Linked DNA regions of Homo sapiens. The protein of the gene in region 2 interacts with the protein of the main gene of each other region in a biochemical or structural test. Each region holds a gene or a part of one and is shown on either strand. Other genes may lie near its edges.

Evidence for each region.
Region 1: the proteins of GOLPH3 (region 2) and TPST1 form a complex in vitro, tested with the Homo sapiens proteins (one study listed by BioGRID).
Region 3: the proteins of GOLPH3 (region 2) and GOLM2 form a complex in vitro, tested with the Homo sapiens proteins (one study listed by BioGRID).

Annotation. Positions count from the first base shown.
Region 1 is NC_000007.14:66,284,318-66,292,333, reverse strand, and holds part of TPST1 (protein-tyrosine sulfotransferase 1), read right to left. Parts: intron 5,824-8,016; coding exon 5,625-5,823; intron 1-5,624. UniProt on the Homo sapiens protein: Catalyzes the O-sulfation of tyrosine residues within acidic motifs of polypeptides, using 3'-phosphoadenylyl sulfate (PAPS) as cosubstrate.
Region 2 is NC_000005.10:32,123,018-32,130,155, reverse strand, and holds the end of GOLPH3 (Golgi phosphoprotein 3), read left to right. Parts: intron 1-3,519; coding exon 3,520-3,944; 3' UTR 3,945-5,440; downstream 5,441-7,138. UniProt on the Homo sapiens protein: Phosphatidylinositol-4-phosphate-binding protein that links Golgi membranes to the cytoskeleton and may participate in the tensile force required for vesicle budding from the Golgi.
Region 3 is NC_000015.10:44,290,703-44,298,718, reverse strand, and holds part of GOLM2 (protein GOLM2), read right to left. Parts: intron 1-8,016.

The sequences.
Region 1 (8,016 bases), on a different chromosome or scaffold from region 2:
CTGGGGGCAGGGCACAGACAAACAAAAAGACAGCAGTAACCTCTGCAGACTTAAGTGTCCCTGTCTGACAGCTTTGAAGAGAGCAGTGGTTCTCCCAGCACGCAGCTGGAGATCTGAGAACGGGCAGACTGCCTCCTCAAGTGGGTCCCTGACCCCTGACCCCCGAGCAGCCTAACTGGGAGGCACCCCCCAGCAGGGGCACACTGACACCTCACACGGCAGTGTATTCCAACAGACCTGCAGCTGAGGGTCCTGTCTGTTAGAAGGAAAACTAACAACCAGAAAGGACATCTACACCGAAAACCCATCTGTACATCACCATCATCAAAGACCAAAAGTAGATAAAACCACAAAGATGGGGAAAAAACAGAACAGAAAAACTGGAAACTCTAAAACGCAGAGCGCCTCTCCTCCTCCAAAGGAACGCAGTTCCTCACCAGCAACAGAACAAAGCTGGATGGAGAATGATTTTGACGAGCTGAGAGAAGAAGGCTTCAGACGATCAAATTACTCTGAGCTACGGGAGGACATTCAAACCAAAGGCAAAGAAGTTGAAAACTTTGAAAAAAATTTAGAAGAATGTATAACTAGAATAACCAATACAGAGAAGTGCTTAAAGGAGCTGATGGAGCTGAAAACCAAGGCTCGAGAACTACGTGAAGAATGCAGAAGCCTCAGGAGCCGATGCGATCAACTGGAAGAAAGGGTATCAGCAATGGAAGATGAAATGAATGAAATGAAGCGAGAAGGGAAGTTTAGAGAAAAAAGAATAAAAAGAAATGAGCAAAGCCTCCAAGAAATATGGGACTATGTGAAAAGACCAAATCTACGTCTGATTGGTGTACCTGAAAGTGATGTGGAGAATGGAACCAAGTTGGAAAACACTCTGCAGGATATTATCCAGGAGAACTTCCCCAATCTAGCAAGGCAGGCCAACGTTCAGATTCAGGAAATACAGAGAACGCCACAAAGATACTCCTCGAGAAGAGCAACTCCAAGACACATAATTGTCAGATTCACCAAAGTTGAAATGAAGGAAAAAATGTTAAGGGCAGCCAGAGAGAAAGGTCGGGTTACCCTCAAAGGAAAGCCCATCAGACTAACAGCGGATCTCTCGGCAGAAACCCTACAAGCCAGAAGAGAGTGGGGGCCAATATTCAACATTCTTAAAGAAAAGAATTTTCAACCCAGAATTTCATATCCAGCCAAACTAAGCTTCATAAGTGAAGGAGAAATAAAATACTTTATAGACAAGCAAATGCTGAGAGATTTTGTCACCACCAGGCCTGCCCTAAAAGAGCTCCTGAAGGAAGCGCTAAACATGGAAAGGAACAACCGGTACCAGCCGCTGCAAAATCATGCCAAAATGTAAAGACCATCGAGACTAGGAAGAAACTGCATCAACTAATGAGCAAAATCACCAGCTAACATCATAATGACAGGATCAAATTCACACATAACAATATTAACTTTAAATATAAATGGACTAAATTCTGCAATTAAAAGACACAGACTGGCAAGGTGGATAAAGAGTCAAGACCCATCAGTGTGCTGTATTCAGGAAACCCATCTCACGTGCAGAGACACACATAGGCTCAAAATAAAAGGATGGAGGAAGATCTACCAAGCAAATGGAAAACAAAAAAAGGCAGGGGTTGCAATCCTAGTCTCTGATAAAACAGACTTTAAACCAACAAAGATCAAAAGAGACAAAGAAGGCCATTACATAATGGTAAAGGGATCAATTCAACAAGAGGAGCTAACTATCCTAAATATTTATGCACCCAATACAGGAGCACCCAGATTCATAAAGCAAGTCCTCAGTGACCTACAAAGAGACTTAGACTCCCACACATTAATAATGGAAGACTTTAACACCCCACTGTCAATATTAGACAGATCAACGAGACAGAAAGTCAACAAGGATACCCAGGAATTGAACTCAGCTCTGCACCAAGCAGACCTAATAGACATCTACAGAACTCTCCACCCCAAATCAACAGAATATACATTTTTTTCAGCACCACACCACACCTATTCCAAAATTGACCACATAGTTGGAAGTAAAGCTCTCCTCAGCAAATGTAAAAGAACAGAAATTATAACAAACTGTCTCTCAGACCACAGTGCAATCAAACTAGAACTCAGGATTAAGAATCTCACTCAAAGCCGCTCAACTACATGGAAACTGAACAACCTGCTCCTGAATGACTACTGGGTACATAACGAAATGAAGGCAGAAATAAAGATGTTCTTTGAAACCAACGAGAACAAAGACACCACATACCAGAATCTCTGGGACGCATTCAAAGCAGTGTGTAGAGGGAAATTTATAGCACTAAATGCCTACAAGAGAAAGCAGGAAAGATCCAAAATTGACACCCTAACATCACAATTAAAAGAACTAGAAAAGCAAGAGCAAACACATTCAAAAGCTAGCAGAAGGCAAGAAATAACTAAAATCAGAGCAGAACTGAAGGAAATAGAGACACAAAAAACCCTTCAAAAAATCAATGAATCCAGGAGCTGGTTTTTTGAAAGGATCAACAAAATTGATAGACCGCTAGCAAGACTAATAAAGAAAAAAAGAGAGAAGAATCAAATAGACACAATAAAAAATGATAAAGGGGATATCACCACCGATCCCACAGAAATACAAACTACCATCAGAGAATACTACAAACACCTCTACGCAAATAAACTAGAAAATCTAGAAGAAATGGATACATTCCTCGACACATACACTCTCCCAAGACTAAACCAGGAAGAAGTTGAATCTCTGAATAGACCAATAACAGGCTCTGAAATTGTGGCAATAATCAATAGTTTACCAACCAAAAAGAGTCCAGGACCAGATGGATTCACAGCCGAATTCTACCAGAGGTACAAGGAGGAACTGGTACCATTCCTTCTGAAACTATTCCAATCAATAGAAAAAGAGGGAATCCTCCCTAACTCATTTTATGAGGCCAGCATCATTCTGATACCAAAGCCAGGCAGAGACACAACCAAAAAAGAGAATTTTAGACCAATATCCTTGATGAACATTGATGCAAAAATCCTCAATAAAATACTGGCAAACTGAATCCAGCAGCACATCAAAAAGCTTATCCACCATGATCAGGTGGGCTTCATCCCTGGGATGCAAGGCTGGTTCAATATACACAAATCAATAAATGTAATCCAGCATATAAACAGAGCCAAAGACAAAAACCACATGATTATCTCAATAGATGCAGAAAAGGCCTTTGACAAAATTCAACAACCCTTCATGCTAAAAACTCTCAATAAATTAGGTATTGATGGGACGTATCTCAAAATAATAAGAGCTATCTATGACAAACCCACAGCCAATATCATACTGAATGGGCAAAAACTGGAAGCATTCCCTTTGAAAACTGGCACAAGACAGGGATGCCCTCTCTCACTGCTCCTATTCAACATAGTGTTGGAAGTTCTGGCCAGGGCAATCAGGCAGGAGAAGGAAATAAAGGGTATTCAATTAGGAAAAGAGGAAGTCAAATTGTCCCTGTTTGCAGACGACATGATTGTTTATCTAGAAAACCCCATCGTCTCAGCCCAAAATCTCCTTAAGCTGATAAGCAACTTCAGCAAAGTCTCAGGATACAAAATCAATGTACAAAAATCACAAGCATTCTTATACACCAACAACAGACAAACAGAGAGCCAAATCATGGGTGAACTCCCATTCACAATTGCTTCAAAGAGAATAAAATACCTAGGAATCCAACTTACAAGGGATGTGAAGGACCTCTTCAAGGAGAACTACAAACCACTGCTCAAGGAAATAAAAGAGGACACAAACAAATGGAAGAACATTCCATGCTCATGGGTAGGAAGAATCAATATCGTGAAAATGGCCATACTGCCCAAGGTAATTTACAGATTCAATGCCATCCCCATCAAGCTACCAATGACTTTCTTCACAGAATTGGAAAAAACTACTTTAAAGTTCATATGGAACCAAAAAAGAGCCCGCATTGCCAAGTCAATCCTAAGCCAAAAGAACAAAGCTGGAGGCATCACACTACCTGACTTCAAACTATACTACAAGGCTACAGTAACCAAAACAGCATGGTACTGGTACCAAAACAGAGATATAGATCAATGGAACAGAACAGAGCCCTCAGAAATAATGCCGCATATCTACAACTATCTGATCTTTGACAAACCTGAGAAAAACAAGCAATGGGGAAAGGATTCCCTATTTAATAAATGGTGCTGGGAAAACTGGCTAGCCATATGTAGAAAGCTGAAACTGGATCCCTTCCTTACACCTTATACAAAAATCAATTCAAGATGGATTAAAGATTTAAACGTTAAACCTAAAACCATAAAAACCCTAGAAGAAAACCTAGGCATTACCATTCAGGACATAGGCGTGGGCAAGGACTTCATGTCCAAAACACCAAAAGCAATGGCAACAAAAGACAAAATTGACAAATGGGATCTAATTAAACTAAAGAGCTTCTGCACAGCAAAAGAAACTACCATCAGAGTGAACAGGCAACCTACAACATGGGAGAAAATTTTCGCATCCTACTCATCTGACAAAGGGCTAATATCCAGAATCTACAATGAACTCAAACAAATTTACAAGAAAAAAACAAACAACCCCATCAAAAAGTGGGCGAAGGACATGAACAGACACTTCTCAAAAGAAGACATTTATGCAGCCAAAAAACCATGAAGAAATGCTCATCATCACTGGCCATCAGAGAAATGCAAATCAAAACCACTATGAGATATCATCTCACACCAGGTAGAATGGCAATCATTAAAAAGTCAGGAAACAACAGGTGCTGGAGAGGATGCGGAGAAATAGGAACACTTTTACACTGTTGGTGGGACTGTAAACTAGTTCAACCATTGTGGAAGTCAGTGTGGCGATTCCTCAGGGATCTAGAACTAGAAATACCATTTGACCCAGCCATCCCATTACTGGGTATATACCCAAATGAGTATAAATCATGCTGCTATAAAGACACATGCACACGTATGTTTATTGCGGCACTATTCACAATAGCAAAGACTTGGAACCAACCCAAATGTCCAACAATGATAGACTGGATTAAGAAAATGTGGCACATATACACCATGGAATACTATGCAGCCATAAAAAATGATGAGTTCATATCCTTTGTAGGGACATGGATGAAACTGGAAACCATCATTCTCAGTAAACTATTGCAAGAACAAAAAACCAAACACCGCATATTCTCACTCATAGGTGGGAATTGAACAATGAGATCACATGGACACAGGAAGGGGAATATCACACTCTGGGGACTGTGGTGGGGTTGGGGGAGGGGGGAGGGATAGTATTGGGAGATATACCTAATGCTAGATGACACATTAGTGGGTGCAGCGCACCAGCATGGCACATGTATACATATGTAACTAACCTGCACAATGTGCACATGTACCCTAAAACTTAGAGTATAATAAAAAAAATAAAATAAAATAAAATAAAAATAAATGAAAAAAAAAAAAAATATATTTTTCTGATCATTAAATAGCAAGAAATAAAATAAGAAAAAAACGTATTCAGATCCCAAATTCAAAATCTAGTTTTCTCAGTTGCTTTAAAAAATCTCACTTACCCTTCGAGTGTTTTCAATAATTTTGGGATCAGGTTTTCCGTAGTTAGGTGGGTTGGCATATGGGTCATATCCAAGCTTGGCAAGCATAGGAGCAATCACTGCCATGTCTTGTAAAACATCTGGCGGTATCTTCCCAACCCATTTTGATAGAGCTCCTACATTGACTGGCTTGATTACTTGGTCTGTAGATCTCTCCACTCTGAAAACAACATAATATGAATAAATATTTATTTAAAATTTTTTAGAAAATCATGCTTTAAAACCACTATAAATTATGTTTTAATGACTAACAGTTGTCTGGATTACAAAACAATTGAGAAAGAGGGCACTAATCAGGTTTGACACTATTTACCAGAATTAAAAAATAATTTAAGATTGACAGGGATTATTGGCAATCTCAGATTTCTAGAAATTGGGAAAAGGGTTAGCTGAAACATGTGCATTATTAAATGTCTTGACACTGTAATTACAACATCCAGGAAAAAAACAGTAACAAAATAAAGATACAGCTGCTTAGAAAAATTGTCAGTCAACTTACTTGAAATGCTTACCAAAAAAAAGACAGACTGATGGATGGAAAGAGGGACAAATAGATGGTCAGAGAGATGGACAGTGATAAAGTAAATACAGCAACATGTTAATGGCACAATCTAGCTGGTGGGTATAAGTCTTTCAATTCTTCTGTACATTTTAACTTTTCGTAACAAAATGTTGGGGGAAAACTGCCAACCATAAACCACTAAGAACGTAAAATATTCACTTGTTCTATTTTCCTGCTGCCTTCCTTAAAAATCTTATTTTCTACAGAAGAAAAAAAAGGGCTGTTTTTGATTTTCAATATTACAGGATTCAATATTACAGAATAAATGTGTTCTACCTCTTGACATGGAAATTTACTCTAAGCCTGTAGTGATTATACTCACTATATTTGACTAAATAACTAGCAACCTCAGGATAAAATGTAGCATCAAATGACATTTGGATTTAAGCTGGATCTGAATTAGATTTTGGCCAAATGACTATAAAACAGAAATGCTTAAAAGAGACTTTTATATCGTAATACATAAAAAGTTATTCAAACATAGTATTCTAAGAAAAGGTAAAGGCCCTTTTAATTAAGAATATAACCTCTTAGTGAATAATCATTATCTGATGAGGAGTCTCCTAAAGGGGATCTGCTTCCAAAATAATAGAAAAACAATGCCTCTTCCCTGGGCTTCTGTGGGGCTACCTGCTCCAGGTTTCCCTCCTACCTCAGGAGCCACATTCCTTTCTCCCTTTTCAAATATTTCTCCAGGACTCCACTTAACCCACTGCTCCCTTCACTCTATCTATTCTCCCTGTATTGCTTCATCCCTAATGTTCTTTGCTTGACATTCTTAAACTGTGTAAAGAACATCCTCGTTTGCCCAGGACAGGTCCAGTTTACACCTAGCATAATTTACCTCAGCGTAATTATTAAAAGCACCTGCCATTCACTCCCATCAGTGTTCAGGAATGAGCAGAGGATGTTATATATGTATTGCATAAACTGTATTACTTTTCTAAAATCCAAAAAATTCTGAATTCTGAAACACATCTGTGTTAAGTATTGGGGTCACACATAGAGTCTTGTATGTCATGACTGGGAAGCTGGGCTTACCTTGAAGATAATAAGGAATAAGTGAAGAGTTTTAATAACAACTGATATGAACAAAGTATTATTATTAGCATTCAGTGCTGATAACTATGGGAAGAATAATTGGAGAATGAGGCAAGTGGGGTCAGGAAAATCAGAACAGATGCTCAACATGTTGGAAGAAAAGAAATGATTAAGGCTTCAATTAGATTAAATGAATTAGAAATAGAGATGAGACAAATTCCAAAGATAATTTTTAAAACTGCTAAGACACTGGGAGACCAAAGTGGGTGGATTATTTGAGGTCAGGAGTTCGAGACCATCCTGGCCAACATGGCGAAATCCCATCTCTACTAAAAATACAAAAATTAGCCAGGTGTGGTGGTGCATGTCTGTAATCCCAGCTACTTGGGAGGCTGAGGCAGGAGAATTGCTTGAACCCAGGAGATGGAGGTTGCGGTGAACCGAGATCACACCACTGCACTCCAGACTAGGCAACAGGGTAAGACTCCATCTTTAAAAAAAAAAAAAAAAAAAAAAGCTAAGACAGTGGCCAATTAGATAAGGCGGGGTGAAGAAAAAGAGAAAGGAGTCTATGATTAATTAATATTTGACTTGAAGGACAGATGTTTGTCTGTCATTCAATAATATAGACAGTATGAAGAAAAAGCATGTGGGTTTTTGATATTGTTGCTTTGTTTTGTTTGACATGTAGAGAACAATAAAAAAAATGTAAATTAATAGTAATCAGAAGGTCACCAAAAATCTAGAGAA
Region 2 (7,138 bases):
TAAAAAAATGGAAGTGGCTGGGTGCGGTGGCTCATGCCTGTAATCCCAGCATTTTGGGAGGCCCAGGTGGGTGGATCACGATGTCAGGAGATCGAGACCATCCTGGCTAACACGGTGAAACCCCATCTCTACTAAAAATACAAAAAATTAGCTGGGCATGGTGGCAGGTGCCTGTAGTCCCAGCTACTTGGGAGGGTGAGGCAGGAGAATGACGTGAACCCAGGAGGCGGAGCTTGCAGTGAGCCCTGATCACACCACCGCACTCCAGCCTGGGCGACAGAGTGAGACTCCGTCTCAAAAAAAAAAAAGGGTGGAAGTTACACACTTTTGAAAGATGTGTGCCTCTACTCCAGGGCTTATTCTATTCTGCTGCCTATGTACTTTGTTGTTTCTTTTGCCTGGAATTCAGGCTTCTCTCCCTTTCGTAGGATGTGGTGAATCCTGCTGGATTTCGAGATTTAGCTTGAAGATTCTTTTTTTCTATAACTTTCCTATGAAATACCCCATAACATTAAACCAGAGTCATTTCTTACTCCTCTAGGCACTTTGTTCATTTTGTTCTTATGGCCCTATTCCCATTTTCTTCTGGCCAGTATAGTTAGTTCTAATATGTAATATATTATGAATGTTATTTTCACTTGATTTTAAATTCCTACAGGGTTAGAAGTATATCCTAATGTTTGTATTCTCAGTACCTAACAGGATTCTTAGAACATTATAAATACTATAAATTCTGCCAGAATGTTTATTCTGCACATGGGCAAATAATAGCTAACATTTACTGAGAGCTTACCATGTGTTAGGCTTCGTTCTAAGAACTTGATATTTAATCCTCGTAATAGCCCTATGAGCTTGATAAATTTGTTACTTTCACTTTATAGATGAGTAAATGGAGAAATAGATTAAGATGACTTGCACTAGGACACTAGGGTTTTTTTGGTTTTGTTTTTTGGGGGTTTTTTTGTTTTTGTTTTTGAGACAGTCTTGTGCTTGTCACCCAGGCTAGAGTGCAGTGGTGCAATCTCGGCTCACTGCAACCTCCGCCTCCCGGGTTCAAGCGATTCTCCTGCCTCAGCCTCCCGAGTAGCTGGGATTACAGCCACCTGCTACCATGCCTGGCTAATTTTTGTATTTTTAGTAGAGACAGGGTTTCACCATCTTGGCTTCCCAAAGTGCTGGGATTACAAGCGTAACCCGCCATGCCTGGCCCCGGCTAACTTTTGTATTTTTTGTAGAGACGGGATTTCACCATGTTGCCCAGGCTGGGACTGTTTCTGTTGACTCCCCCCTTACCCCTAGTTTTAGGTCACTTTTTTGCTGCTTTGCAAGTTTAGTGATTTTTTTTTTTTTTTAACTTCGATGCTGGACAGTGTGAATGTTAAGTGATGAATTTTATGGTCTTTCTTTAAAGAGTGTTGAATTTTGTCTTGGTAGGCAGCTAAGTTACTTGTGGATCAACTTGTTTTTAATTTTTTGTTTTTGTTTTTAAATTGTGAGATGGAGTTTCACTCTTGTTGCCTAGGTTGGAGAGCAATGGCACGATCTCGGCTCACTGCAACCTCTGCCCTCCCCCGGTTTAAATGATTCTCCTGCCTCAGCCGTCCGAGTAGCTGAGATTACAGGCAACTGCCACGATGCCCGGCTAATTTTTTGCAGTTGTAGAAGAGATGGGGTTTCACCATGTTGGCCAGGCTAGTCTCGAACTCCTGACCTCAGGTGATCCACCCGTCTGGGCTACCCACAGTGCTGGGATTACAGGTTTGAGCCACCGCGCCTGGCCGCTTTTAATCTTTATTAGGGCATGTCTAGGGTGGTCTATACTCTAGGACTGGTTTAGCCCTACTACTAAGATGTGAATTTTCTAGTATTCCTTCTGAATGTCCTGGTTTTTAGTGAGGCTTTTGCTCTCTGGCTAGTTGGCAATCACATTTTTCCCAGCTCTACTGAACTCTTAGAATTGTTCACTTTCTGGTAGGTGTTCTTTGCCTAGCTTTGTGGAATTTCTCACCCTAACACATGTAGCTTTAGCTTTCAGCCCAAGACTCAAGGAACACCTTGCAGATTTCTAGACCTCTTTATCTGTGTAGGTCCCCCTTCTCCAGTAGTCTGCTTTGCACACTGCAGCTGCCTTAGCTACCCTGAACTCTGATCTCTGCTGCCTTAACGTGATGGGACTGCTGTGCTCTGCTTGGGTTCTTCCTGCCTGCTCTGCTGCCTGGGACGTGCCTCTAGGTGGTAAGCTTAGGCAGTTGTCAGGCTCACATAGGCTGCACTCAAGTGTCACAGTTCTGGGCTGCTTTTGACTAGTGTCTGAAAACAGTTTTTTCGTATATTTTATGGAGATTTCTAATTACAATGAGAGGGCAGCTTTAGGAATGATTACTTCATCATAGGCCTATGTTGTTTAGTATTAAGTATAGGAAAATAATTGTGTCTCTGTCCAGTTGAATGGTAATATATTTTAAGACAGCAACTTAAAATTTTAAGATAGTCCGCTAGAACTTTCTTTGATGATGAAAATGTTCTGTTCCTGTGGGGTGTAGCCACTGGCCATACGTCACTATTGTATACGTGAAATGTGGCTAGTGCCACTGAAGAGATGAATTTTTAAATTAATTTAAATAGCTCTATGTGGGTAATGGCTCCTGTAATGGACAGTGTGGCTGAAGGTTTTCTCTCAGTATTAGAAAATCTCGACCTTACAACGTTTGCATTTAAAAAAGATGCCTGTGGTTGATCTTTAACATATTCTAATTTAGAAAAATATAGTTTTTTTAAGTATAAAAATAGTTGCATGTTCATTGGAGATCATTTGGAAAATGCAGAAAGCACAAAAAAAGTTGAGCACACATAATCCCAAAGATAAGTAAGATTAATATTTTGGTGTATTTCCTTCCAGTTTTCTATAAAGAAGAACCCACTTTAGTGAAAAATCGTTTGGTTTTATTTTAAATATTTCTCTCTCAAAAGGAAATATGTATGGATGGCAAGGTTAAAATTGTGAAAATTTGTATCCTTCCAGAATTAGCTTTATATTGTTATCAAATAATAGCATGGCCTAAACAGGCTTTCCTACCTCTATAGGCTGTATATGTGTAGCAGTTTCAGGAATAACATATTAATCAGGAAGCTTTTTTTTTTAGTCTATTAGTTGCAGACTGGTGTTTAATAGAAAACTTATTTGGCTATTGGCTGCTTTTTGACTTCAGCTGGAAGGAAGCTCAAACATAATATTTGGCTCATTTCCACATAAGACTAAGGGTTACTGACTCTGGTCTGAAGACTGCTTGCAGTTTAGTCGTCTGAGTGACTCCTGTGGCTGAGGATGTGCTGGGTGCTTAGAATCCAAAGGTCTGGCTAGGCTTAAGGGGTTCATGGTCTAGTTAGGGAGAAAAACATGGCAGATTTTCTTCTGTTTTTCTTGGGGCAAAATCAGATTTTACTGTTTAATAGTACAAAATTTTTGCAAAATTAGCAGATAATACTCATCATTTCTAACTTCTGAAATCTTTTGTTTAGGTGAGACATGGAATCCATTAAAATTGCATTATCAGTTAAGAAATGTACGGGAACGATTAGCTAAAAACCTGGTGGAAAAGGGTGTATTGACAACAGAGAAACAGAACTTCCTACTTTTTGACATGACAACACATCCCCTCACCAATAACAACATTAAGCAGCGCCTCATCAAGAAAGTACAGGAAGCCGTTCTTGACAAATGGGTGAATGACCCTCACCGCATGGACAGGCGCTTGCTGGCCCTCATTTACCTGGCTCATGCCTCGGACGTCCTGGAGAATGCTTTTGCTCCTCTTCTGGACGAGCAGTATGATTTGGCTACCAAGAGAGTGCGGCAGCTTCTCGACTTAGACCCTGAAGTGGAATGTCTGAAGGCCAACACCAATGAGGTTCTGTGGGCGGTGGTGGCGGCGTTCACCAAGTAACTCTGCTCGGGGTGAACCATTCTCCTTTCTCTCAAGTAAACCAGTAGTTTTTCTTCTGTTGACTTCTGGTTTTCTGTAATTTGTACTTTCCCACACTATAATTGGCTTCTGTTTTACAAAATGGTGGGTGGCTTTTTCTTTTTTGTACGTGTACAGGATTCTGCTGGTACGAGAGGCCTTCCTCTTTCTGTTTTTAAAAAAAGTTTTACTGCCATATTGGCATTCCATTCCCTGTTGCCATCCTCACTGTTACCTGTTTTGGGTTTCTGGTCTACTTTGACTTTCAAAGTACCTCCAGCCTCCTCATACGCACAGCTTTTGGATGACCTCAGCTTGAGTTTCTCCATATGTGCATGTACATCTAGCATTCTGCCTACAGTTCAGACAGAAGTCACAAAAAGGCCTTCAACTCACCAAAGGTAAATATCTGTATCTATTAGGACATTTTTTACATAGACTTCAGTTGAGATGTATACTTAGCAAAATTATTTTTAAATTGAAACAGCACAGTAAATACTTAATATAAAATGTCCCTTGGATTTTGCTTCCCATGTAAATCTATTGTATTATTACACTTGTTATAATTTTAACTATAAAGGTCCAATTGTTTCACAGAGCCAGTTTGGGATGGGCTGCATTCCATTTATGCTGTATATAGTTTGAATTATATATAAATTACCCCTTCTTCTGGCCACCCCTGCTCCCATCTTAGTATTTTGCAAGATCTAATCAGTTGTACACCTGGTGCCCCTCGCTTGCTTCAATCATGGTTATTTGATGGCAAAATCGACCTCTTGTCGCTGAAGGAGAGAGAAAAGATGTGTGTCTGATTGGTCCTGGGATTTTTTGAGCTGTGCCATTTATGGTACTCTTTGCCTATGCATCCCCTTGTTAGATTTTTTTTAAATTTTATCTTACTGTTTTTATAATTTCTATTGGGAAGAGGCTTGTGACCAGTACCAATCTTGAGTTTCTTTTTCTGTCCACAAGTAAATTAATATCTGCTCTGAAATGTCATTTATCTACTCACACATTCTTGGGGAAAAAAATCAAATGTCAGTCCTAGCAGATGTTGCATGTAAATTGGTAGCAAGTAATGATTACAACCCAGAGGATTAAGAATTTTGTAACAGAAAGCTCTATGTTTTAATTTTTTATATACAATTAGGATAATTAGCATTGTCAGACTATAAACCTTTGCTTTTTAAAGTTTATTTTTACTATTTCTTTATCACTTTATTGTATCATCACCATTGGTTTCATAATGTAAATACTATATGTTGAACAAATTAAATGTCAAAATTTTTTATTACCATAGTCCATGTTAATAGTGGGGCTTTCAGGTGTTTAGAGATTTTTTTTGTTGTTGTTAACATTCATTGCAAAAGTACTAGATGGTGTATAACTCTAGAGTTGAATTTTAAGGGATTCCCTAATATGTATACTATCTTTTTATCTGAAGTAATAAATAAACAATGATCTTGAAAGTGCCTGAATCAGAGCAAGCATGTCATTTGTGTTTTTGTATTCTCATTTAGTTTTCTTTCAAATGAAATGTTACTTACTGTAGCATTGTAATATTTTAATGCAGGGCTTGGGTTTCTTAAAGGGCCAGATAGTAGATATTTTAGGCTTTGTGAGCCGCCAGCTGTGTCAGTTGCAACTACTGAACTTTACTGAATGAAAACTGTTATAGATAATACAAATAAATAGGTTAGACTGTGTTCCAATAAAACTTTATTTGCAAAAACGGGGCTGGTCAAGGCCCCAGTTTTAATGCATGGAAAAAAGACAGATTTTTCTATCCATTGGAGTAACCTTCTTTACCTTCAAAAATGATACTGCTGGTGGTAACTACATGTAGGAACTATTAAAGTGTCTTCCCATAAAGTAGATATTGGGAAACTGATACCAGTATACTGGAATTTCTTATCGAGTGAAAAGTTCCTGTTTTTCACTTGAGAAGATGTTAGAGGTGAGGTAATAGATTTCTGAGGTATTCACTTCATCAGCAGCATCAGTATTCCCAAGCAAGGGGGAAAAGGACCTCACCTGAACTTCTGTCAGTGTTTGCATTAGACCAGAGTGCACACTTAGCTCTACCTGTGTGCGGCCCCAGCTTCAGTGTGTTTCTATTTCCAGAGGAGGAGAAGAGTAGTAAAATCTCGGGGGGGTTGTAGTGGTGTTATCAAGAACTCTTTGTCCTATGGAATATTGTTGCTTTCAGTCCTCTTGAAAGCAGGAATGATGTGACTCCATGGAAATAAGTATTGTCTGTGTTAAGAGCAGTACTTCCACGGGTTTATGCCACTTTGATTAAAAGCCTTTACATAGATATCTATTGTGTAGAGAAGTAGTAGTTGCTGTTTCTTTTTTGGTGGCTTCATATGTTTTGTAATTGGCTGAGTGTTCCTTAAAATAACCTGATTGGTACAATGTACTAACAGAAGCTTACTAAGCGCATGCTATTTTATATCTCATTTTTACCTCCCCAAATTCCAGTTACTATCTTCACTTTGTGAAGAACAATCTCAGAGGAGAATTCGCTCAGTGTCACATTATCTACTAACTGTTCGAGCTTTTAATGCTAAGGCGATTGAGGAACAGTGATGGCATTCAGCTACAATTGTTTCTTTCTTAATTGGGCACTTCCTTTCCCTGACAGAGACAGAATAGGCATGCAAAATACTCTCATGGCATTGCAAAATAAAAAGATTAAAGAACATCTCTATTCTAATATCTTGGTATAACTTGCATAAATTATCTTTTGGGGATGAAAAAGTTGACCAGTTCTGTGTGTTCTCAAAGCAGAATTGTCTAATGACCAGGAAAGTCCCTGGCCTCCTGAAGCAAGGTTGACCAATGATCTCTGACTCGTTCCACCACTCAGCCGTTCTTACTGTTTGTGAACAGATAGGTACAATACTCTTTCTAAGTGTAGTAAACCGTTGAATTTGGTTATCTCCCAAAAGAAAGAGAAAGGGGCTAGGGCCTGAATGGTTCAGTGACACATGGGACCGACCAGTAAGTAGTGACACCTAGCCTGATACTGTCAAGGGCCCATGGCTGCCAGGTGTGGCTACTCCCACCCAGCAGTTGCAAGTTTATGTGAGGTATTTATGAAGTTTAATTTCCAACTCTGTGGCTTCTCTATCTTGTATTAACTTATATATTGTGAGATAATACTGCTCCAT
Region 3 (8,016 bases), on a different chromosome or scaffold from region 2:
AAACATAGTCCTTCCTCAAGGAACTTAAAATTTCGTTGAGAAAACGAAGTTCACAAACAATAAGCTATTAGTAAAAAATGAACAAAATAAGTTAATGAAGCTCAAACAATAAATGTAAATGGTGTATAAAGAAGGAAAAGCATGGCTGGGAGCAGTGGCTCACACCTGTAATCCCAGCACTTTGGGAGGCCCAGGTGGGTGGATCACCTGAGGTTAGGAGTTCGAGACCAGCCTGGCCAATGTGGTAAAACCCCATCTTTACTAAAAATACAAAAAAAAAAAAAAAAATTAGCCGGCCATGGTGGTGGGTGCCTATAATCCCAGCTACTTGGGAGGCTGAGGCTAGAGAATCACTTGAACCTGGGAGGCGGAGGTTGCAGTAAGCTGAGATCGCGCCATTGCACTCCAACCTGGGCGACAAGAGCAAAACTCCATCTCAAAAAAAAAAAAAAAGAAAAAGAAAAGAAGGAAAAGCATATTCCAGGTCAGAAGTCCCAGGGGGCTTCATAGTGGACATGGATCAGAAGCTGGATAAAAGATTGGTAGAATAGGCCAGGTGTGGTGGCTCATGCCTGTAATCCCAGCACTTTGGGAGGTCAAGGTGGACGGTTCACAAGGTCAGGAGTTCGAGACCAGCTTGGCCAACATGGTGAAACCCCATCTCTATTAAAAATACAAAAAAATTTAGCCAGGCCTGGTGGTGCGTGCCTGTAATCCCAGCTACTCAGGAGGCTGAGGCAGGAGAGTCGCTTAAACCCGGGAGGCGGAGGTTGCAATGAGCCAAGATTGCGTCACTGTACTGCAGCCTGGGCAACAGAGCAAGACTCCATCTCAAAAAAAAAAAAAAAAAAGGCCAGGTGCGGTGGCTCACACCTGTAATCCCAACACTTTGGGAGGCCAAGGCGGGTGGATCATGAGGTCAGGAGATCAAGATGGAGACCATCCTGACTAACATGGTGAAACCCCTTCTCTACTCAAAATACAAAAAATTTAGCTGGGCCTGGTGGCGGGTGCCTGTAGTCCTAGCTACTCAGGAGGCTGAGGCAGGAGAATGGTGTGAACCCGGGAGGCGGAGCTTGCAGTGAGCCAAGATCACACCACTGCACTCCAGCCTGGGCGACAGAGCAAGACTCTGCCTCAATTAAAAAAAAAAAAACAAAAAAAAATTGGTATAATAAATATACAGAAAAGAGGCAAGAAACTAAGAGTCAAACAGCAGGAACAAAGGCACAGAAACAGGAATTAACATGACACAGAAAGGCAGGTGGGAAGGCAAAAGTAAGCAAAACAATCAGCCTGAAATACAATTTGGGTCAGGAGATAGTGGGAGACAAAGGTAGCTAGAGCCATTCTATGGAAGACCTTAAAGATGAGACAGCAGAATTCTAACCTGATGTAGTCAGTGAGTCATACAGCCACTCTGAAAATAAGGTTTGAGGAAGTTCAGGCTGGCTTCACAGGAGAACTGACAAAAAGAAATGGAGACCAAGGAAAGGGGACTAGTTAGGGATCTGCCAAGTTCTCTATTCTGCAGTCAGAATGACGTTTTTTTTAATTCGATCAAGTAACTCCTCTGCATGTTGAAGCACTCAATATGATACACTGAAGGAATCAAAGACAACACCAAATTTCTAACCTCAGTCTTAAATAACAGTTGCATGGGCATCATTTATAGGAACCAAGAAGGTAGGAAAGGGATATCGTTTGGAAGAGTTATCAGTTTTGATTGGTTTATGAATAATTTGAGGTAGAAATTACAGTTAAAAGTTGGCCAGATTATGGCTGGTGAGGCAGAGGCAAAGGCAGGAATTATCATGTGCAGCATATTAGAACTGTAGAAGGTTGATACTCAAATTACAGAAGAACAGGCAAGCTCTAGGGAGTCAGCTAAGACACCTATGGGAGGAGCCAACTAAGCCTAACTGGAAATGAACCAGGAAACTGAAAACAAGCAAATAACAAAAACAGTCAGACATTCAGGAGCAAAGGGTGAGGCAGGTAGGCTAGGGCTGGGACCAGATCTTGGGCAGGAACACAGACAGAGTCCCATCCTGGAAAAAAGGCAGAAAAGAAATAAGGAAGTAGCTGTAGAATAACAATGTAGTAGGCACTGTTTTAAGAATTTTAATCAATTTACTCAAACCTCTCAAGAATAAGAGAGACTACTATTATATTCCAAAATTTTCCCCCAAAAAGCATTTTTTTGTAATACGCTTCTCATCCTCCTTTCTGACATATGACCTTTTCCCCATTCAACTAAAGGCATAGGCTGCCTCAAGGAAAATTATGGTTGTTAAAGGGAAAAAAGGTCATTTACTATTCAGCTTCAAACCTCAAAACTGATGTGTGTGTATGTGTGTGTATGTGTGTAATAAAACGACAATTTTGAGGACTTTTTCTACATTCTAACAGCTCCTTTTATTTATCAAGAGCTTGACGTGCCACAGCTGGACCACATAGCTTTAGTATGAGCTACAGTTTGCAAGAATCCAAGTTTAGGAGCCAAGCACAGTGGTGCACACCTGTAGTTTCAGCTACTCAGAAGGCTTAAACAGGAGGACCTTCACTTGAGACCAGGAGTTCCTGGCTGTGGTGTGCTATGATCACACCTATGAATAGCTACTGCATTCTAGCCTGGGCAATGTAGTAAGACCCCATCTCTTTAAAAGACAAAGAGAGAGAGAATAATAATCAAAGTTAAGAGACATGCCCTGTACTGAGGAAAGAGAAATAAGGACTTTTCTGATAAAAGAGGAAATAAAAGGGTGTCTGTGTGTGTGTGTGTGTGTGTGTGTGTGTGTATGTGTGGTGGATCTCCCTTGTTCTAAGATGAACTGTGTTTCCCCCAAATTCACATGTTGAAGTCCCAGCCTCCAGGATCTCAGAATGTAACTGTATTTGGAGACAAGGTCTTTAAAGTGCTTAAGTTACAGTGGGTCTAATCCAATATGACTCGTATCCTTTTAAGAAGAGGAAAAGACACCAAGGATGTGTGCATACAGAGGGACTATCATGTCACAATAAAGCAGCAAGAAGGTTGCCATCTGCAAGCCAAGGAGAGAAGTTCAGAGAAAAACAACCCTGCTGGCACCTTGGTCTTAGACTTCCAACCTTCAAAAATGTGAGAAAATAAATTTCTGCTGTTTAAGCCACCTAGTCTGTGGCATTTTGTTATGGCAGCCCTAGCAAACTAATACACCCCTCCAGGCTGAAACCCTTTAGAGGGAAGTTTAAAAAATCAGAAAGTTTGAGGGAATCTCAGAGAAGTGGGGGTTGTTTCTCACTTCTTTGGACAAGACAGGAGCAACTTAAAGCTCCCTTAAAGAATTTCCATGTTCAAGGCCGGATGTGGTGGGTCATGCCTGTAATCCAGCACTTTGGGAGGCCAAGGTGGGCAGATCACTTGAGGTCAGGAGTTAAAGACCAGCCTGGCCAACATGGTGAAACCCTGTCTCTACTAAAAAATCAAAAATTAGCCAGGCATGGTGGCATGCACCTGTAGTCTCAGCTACTCAGGAGGATGAGGCAGGAGAATCACTTCAGCCCGGCGGGTGGAGGTTGAAGTGAGCTGAGACTGCGCCACTGCGCTCCAGCCTGGGTGACAGAGTGAGGCTCCATCTCAGAAAAAAAAAAAAAAAGGAATTTATGTGTTTAGTAACCCAGGTAACAGACTGGAAGTGACAGAATGGCATAATAATGTGAAAGAAACCAAATATCACCTTTCTGATTCCTCTGGAGAAAGGATTCCTTGATTTCCAAAGATAACCTTATAGTAGCAACGAGCATATCTGCCAAGCAGACCTTGGTTTCTTTTTTTTTTTTTGTGAGACAGAGTCTTACTCTGTTGCCCAGGCTGGAGTGCAGTGGCACAATCTTGGCTCACTGCAACCTCTGCTTCCCAGTTCAAACGATACTCCTCCCAAGTAGCTGGGATTACAGGCGCCCCCCACCATGCCCGGTTAATTTTTGTTTTTTTTTGTGGTGGTGGTGTTTTTTTTTTTTTTTTTGAGATGGAGTCTCGCTGTCCTCCAGGCTGGAGTGCAATGGCGTGATCTCAGCTCACTGCAACCTCTGCCTGCCGGGTTCAAGCAATTCTCCTGCCTCAGCCTCCCAAGTAGCTGGGACTACAGGTGCGCACCACCATACCCGACTAATTTTTTGTATTTTTAGTAGAGACGGAGTTTCACCATGCTAGCCAGGCTGGTCTCGAACTCCTGACCTTGTGATCTGCCCACCTCGGCCTCCCAAAGTGCTGGGATTACAGGCGTGAGCCACCGTGTCTGGCCCAATTTTTGTATTTTTAAGTAGAGATGGGGTTTCACCATGTTAGTCAGGGTGGTCTTGAACTCCTGACCTCAAGAAATCCACTAGCCTCAGCCTCCCAAAGTGTTGGGACTACAGGCGTGAGCCACCGTGCCCAGCTGCAGACCTTGGTTTCTAATGCCATTCTCCAATAAAAGGAACCAAGGTTCCTTGGAGAAATGGTTGACTCTAGGGCTGGAGTAGGAAACGTATAGATAGGCCTAGAGCATCTAAAAGTACCAAAAAGTAAGAAAGGGGTATGTCACAATGAAACTGGGTGTAGGGTATGTGGAAATTCTCTGTACTTTCTGGCACTATAAAAGTAAGAAGGGGATACAGGAGTTAATGAAGGAGCTCTCCAACAGCCAGAGCCAGAACAATTTGAGCAACAAAAAAATAAACTAATATTGGATTATAAGCCAAAGTACAAAATAAATATCCATGAGTCCATACCGATACAAGTAAATTATTAAGTTAATAAATGAGGGAGAAGAGACAAATCTCCTTTGCAGAAGAATTCCATATAGTTTATGTTGATACTCTGTCCTTAAGGAGGAAAAACATAACTACCCACTCATTAAGTGAGGGTGAACATACTTTCTTCCAAAGTGTACAGTATGGAAACAGATTTTTTTTAAGAGTACATTATAGTGGAGAAACCTGACAAGCACTATCTCACGCCAGGTGATAGAGGTTAACATAAGTAGTGATAAATCATTTTGAAAAACATACCCATGTTATGATGTGTTGAGATTGGTACTTTACTTCTGTGGTCTTTGTCCGAAAACCCACAACTCCAGTCTAATCCTGAGAAAAGACTCAGACAATTCCCAATTGAGGGACATTCTATATAAAACACCTAATCAGTAATCCTTAAAATTGTCAAGATTATCAAAAACAAGAAAAGGTCTAAAAAACAAGGAAAGGCTGAAAAGAAGCTTCAGAAGACATAATGTCTAAATGTAACGTAACTCTGGATGAGATCCTGGAATTAAAAAAGGACAGCAGGCGAAAACTGAAGAAATCTGAATAAAGTACGGACTTTCATAATAAGATATCAATACTGGTTCATTAATTGTGACAAATGCATCATACTTATGTTAAGATGTTAATAATAGGGAAGACTGGGTGTGGGGTATATAAAAACTCCCTGTACTATCTTTGCAATAATTTTCCAGATCTAAAACTGTTAAGTGGCCAGGTATGGTAGCTCACACCTGGCACTTTAGAAGGCCAAGGCAGGAGGATCACTTGTTTAGTTTTCCAGATCTAATTTTCCAATAATTTTCCAGATCTAAAACTGTTAAGTGGCCAAGTATGGTGGCTCACACCCAGCACTTTAGAAGGCCAAGGCAGGAGGATCACTTCAGGCCAGGAACTGGAGACCAGCCTGGACAAGATAATAAGACCCTCATCTCTACCAAAAAATAAAAAATTAGACCATCATGGTGGCATGCACCTATAGTCCCAGCTACTTGGGAGGCCGAGGTGGGAGGATCGCTTGAGCCCAGGAGTTTGAGGCTGTAGTAAACTATGATCGCACCACTGCTCTCCAGCCTGGGTGACAGAGCAAGACCCTGTCTCAAAACAAACAAACAACAATAACAATAAAAAAAACCCTGAAAAACTGTTAAGTTTAAAATACAGAGACCAAGACTACCCTTTCTACTAAGCAGCTCAGAGAGTCCTCATTAACCCCAAGAACAGACATTCACAAGCAGCCCAAGAAAGTTGTTATAGCCAGCTCAAAATACAGAAGTGGCACACCAAGTGCTGTGGCACACACCTAGAATCCCAGCACTTTGTGAGCCCAAGGCAAGATCACTTGGAGCCAGGAGTTTGAAAGCAGCCTGGGCAACATAGCAACACCCTATCTCTACAAAACTAAAAAAAGAAAAAACTTTTAAAAATATACAGAACTAGCCGGGTGCGGTGGCTCACGCCTGTAATCTCAGCACTTTGGGAGGCCAAGGCTGGTGGATCACGAGGTCAGGAGATCGAGACCATCTTGGCTAACATGGTGAAACCCCATCTCTACTAAAAATACAAAAAATTAGCCGGGCATGGAGGTGGGCGCCTGTAGTCCCAGCTACTCAGGAGGCTGAAGCAGAGAATGGCGTGAACCCAGGAGGCGGAGCTTGCAGTGAGCCGAGATCACACCACTGTACTCCAGCCTGCTTAACCGAGCGAGACTCTGTCTAAAAAAAAAAAAAAATATATATATATATATATGTATGTATACACATATACACACACAGAACTGACATTCAATAAGAGATACAGTCTTGTGAGCCAGCTGCATAAAATATTAGCCAAACACTTAAAAGTAGTTAAGATACCCAGGGCAATATTTCCCAAACTAGTGGGCTTTGCTATATTATTCTGTGCCATAATAGGTAGGCCATGAAAATAGTAACCTGTGATCAAATAAACTAAACAAGACTGAGTTAAACAAAATTGAATAGCCTTCTTTATTAATGGATTTCTCAGAGCTTTTATATTCCAGCAGGCATTATGAATTCCAAGAGGAGGATACACTAACATTTCCCTCCAAAAAAGGTTTTCATTTTTTTCTCCTCACCACCTAAGAAATATTACAAGAAGGGTATTCTGTTTAACACTACTTTGGGGAATACTGCTCTTATGGGAGAGCAAAGGCTCAATAACAGAGTCCCTTACTAGGTGACTGGAAAGAAAAAATAAATCCAGCAAAGAATATAGTGAAGAAGATAAGACTGGAGAGTCCAGTATAACAGAAGCAAGAAAGAAAATAGTTTCCAAATAGCTAGAGACAATCAACAGGATCAAACTACTGGGAGGTCAAATACAGTAAGAATAAAAATATTCTTTGGTTTTGACTAGGAAGACTGCCATTTGTGACCTTCAAGAGAATAGTTTCAAAAAAGGGGAGGAAAGAAAGATGGCAGACATTTTAAGATTAGGATGGTTATGAAAAAATAGGTAGATGGAACATTTGTAGACCATCAATAATTTGACTTTAGCAATGAAAGTGAAAAAACAAATGGGTTGGTTGGGAGAAAGGAATATACAGATTTTTTTTCCTTTACTGAGAACAGGGGACACCCACATACTGTTGAAGGTAAAAAGTGAAACAAACTGAAAGAGACAGTTCAGTAGAGCTGGGCAAGGTGGTGCACACCTGCAGTCCCAGCTACTCAGAGGCTGAAGCAGGAGGATCACTTGAGCTCAGGATTTCAATGCTATAGTGCATCATGCCTGTGTAACAGCTACTGCACTCCAGCCTGGGCAACACAATGAGACCCTGTCTCTTTAAAAAAAAAAAAAAAAAAAGAGGCTGGGCATGGTGGCTCACACCTGTAATCCCAGCACTTTGGGAGGCTGAGGCGGGCGGATCACCTGAGGTTGGTAGTTCAAGACCAGCCTGACCAACATTGAGAAACCCCTTCTCTACTAAAAATACAAAATTAGCCAGGCGTGGTGGTGCATGCCTGTAATCCCAGCTACTCAGGAGGCTGAAGCAGGAGAATTGCTTGAACCCCGGGGGGGCGGAGGTTGCAGTGAGCTGAGATCACGCCATTGCACTCCTGCCTGGGCAACAAAAACAAAACTCCGTCTCAAAAAACAACAACAACAACAACAACGACAACAACAAAAAGTCCAATGGATGAAAGAATGGAATCAAGAGTATTAATTACAACAAGAGACTTTCCTTTGAGACCAGAGAGAAGAATG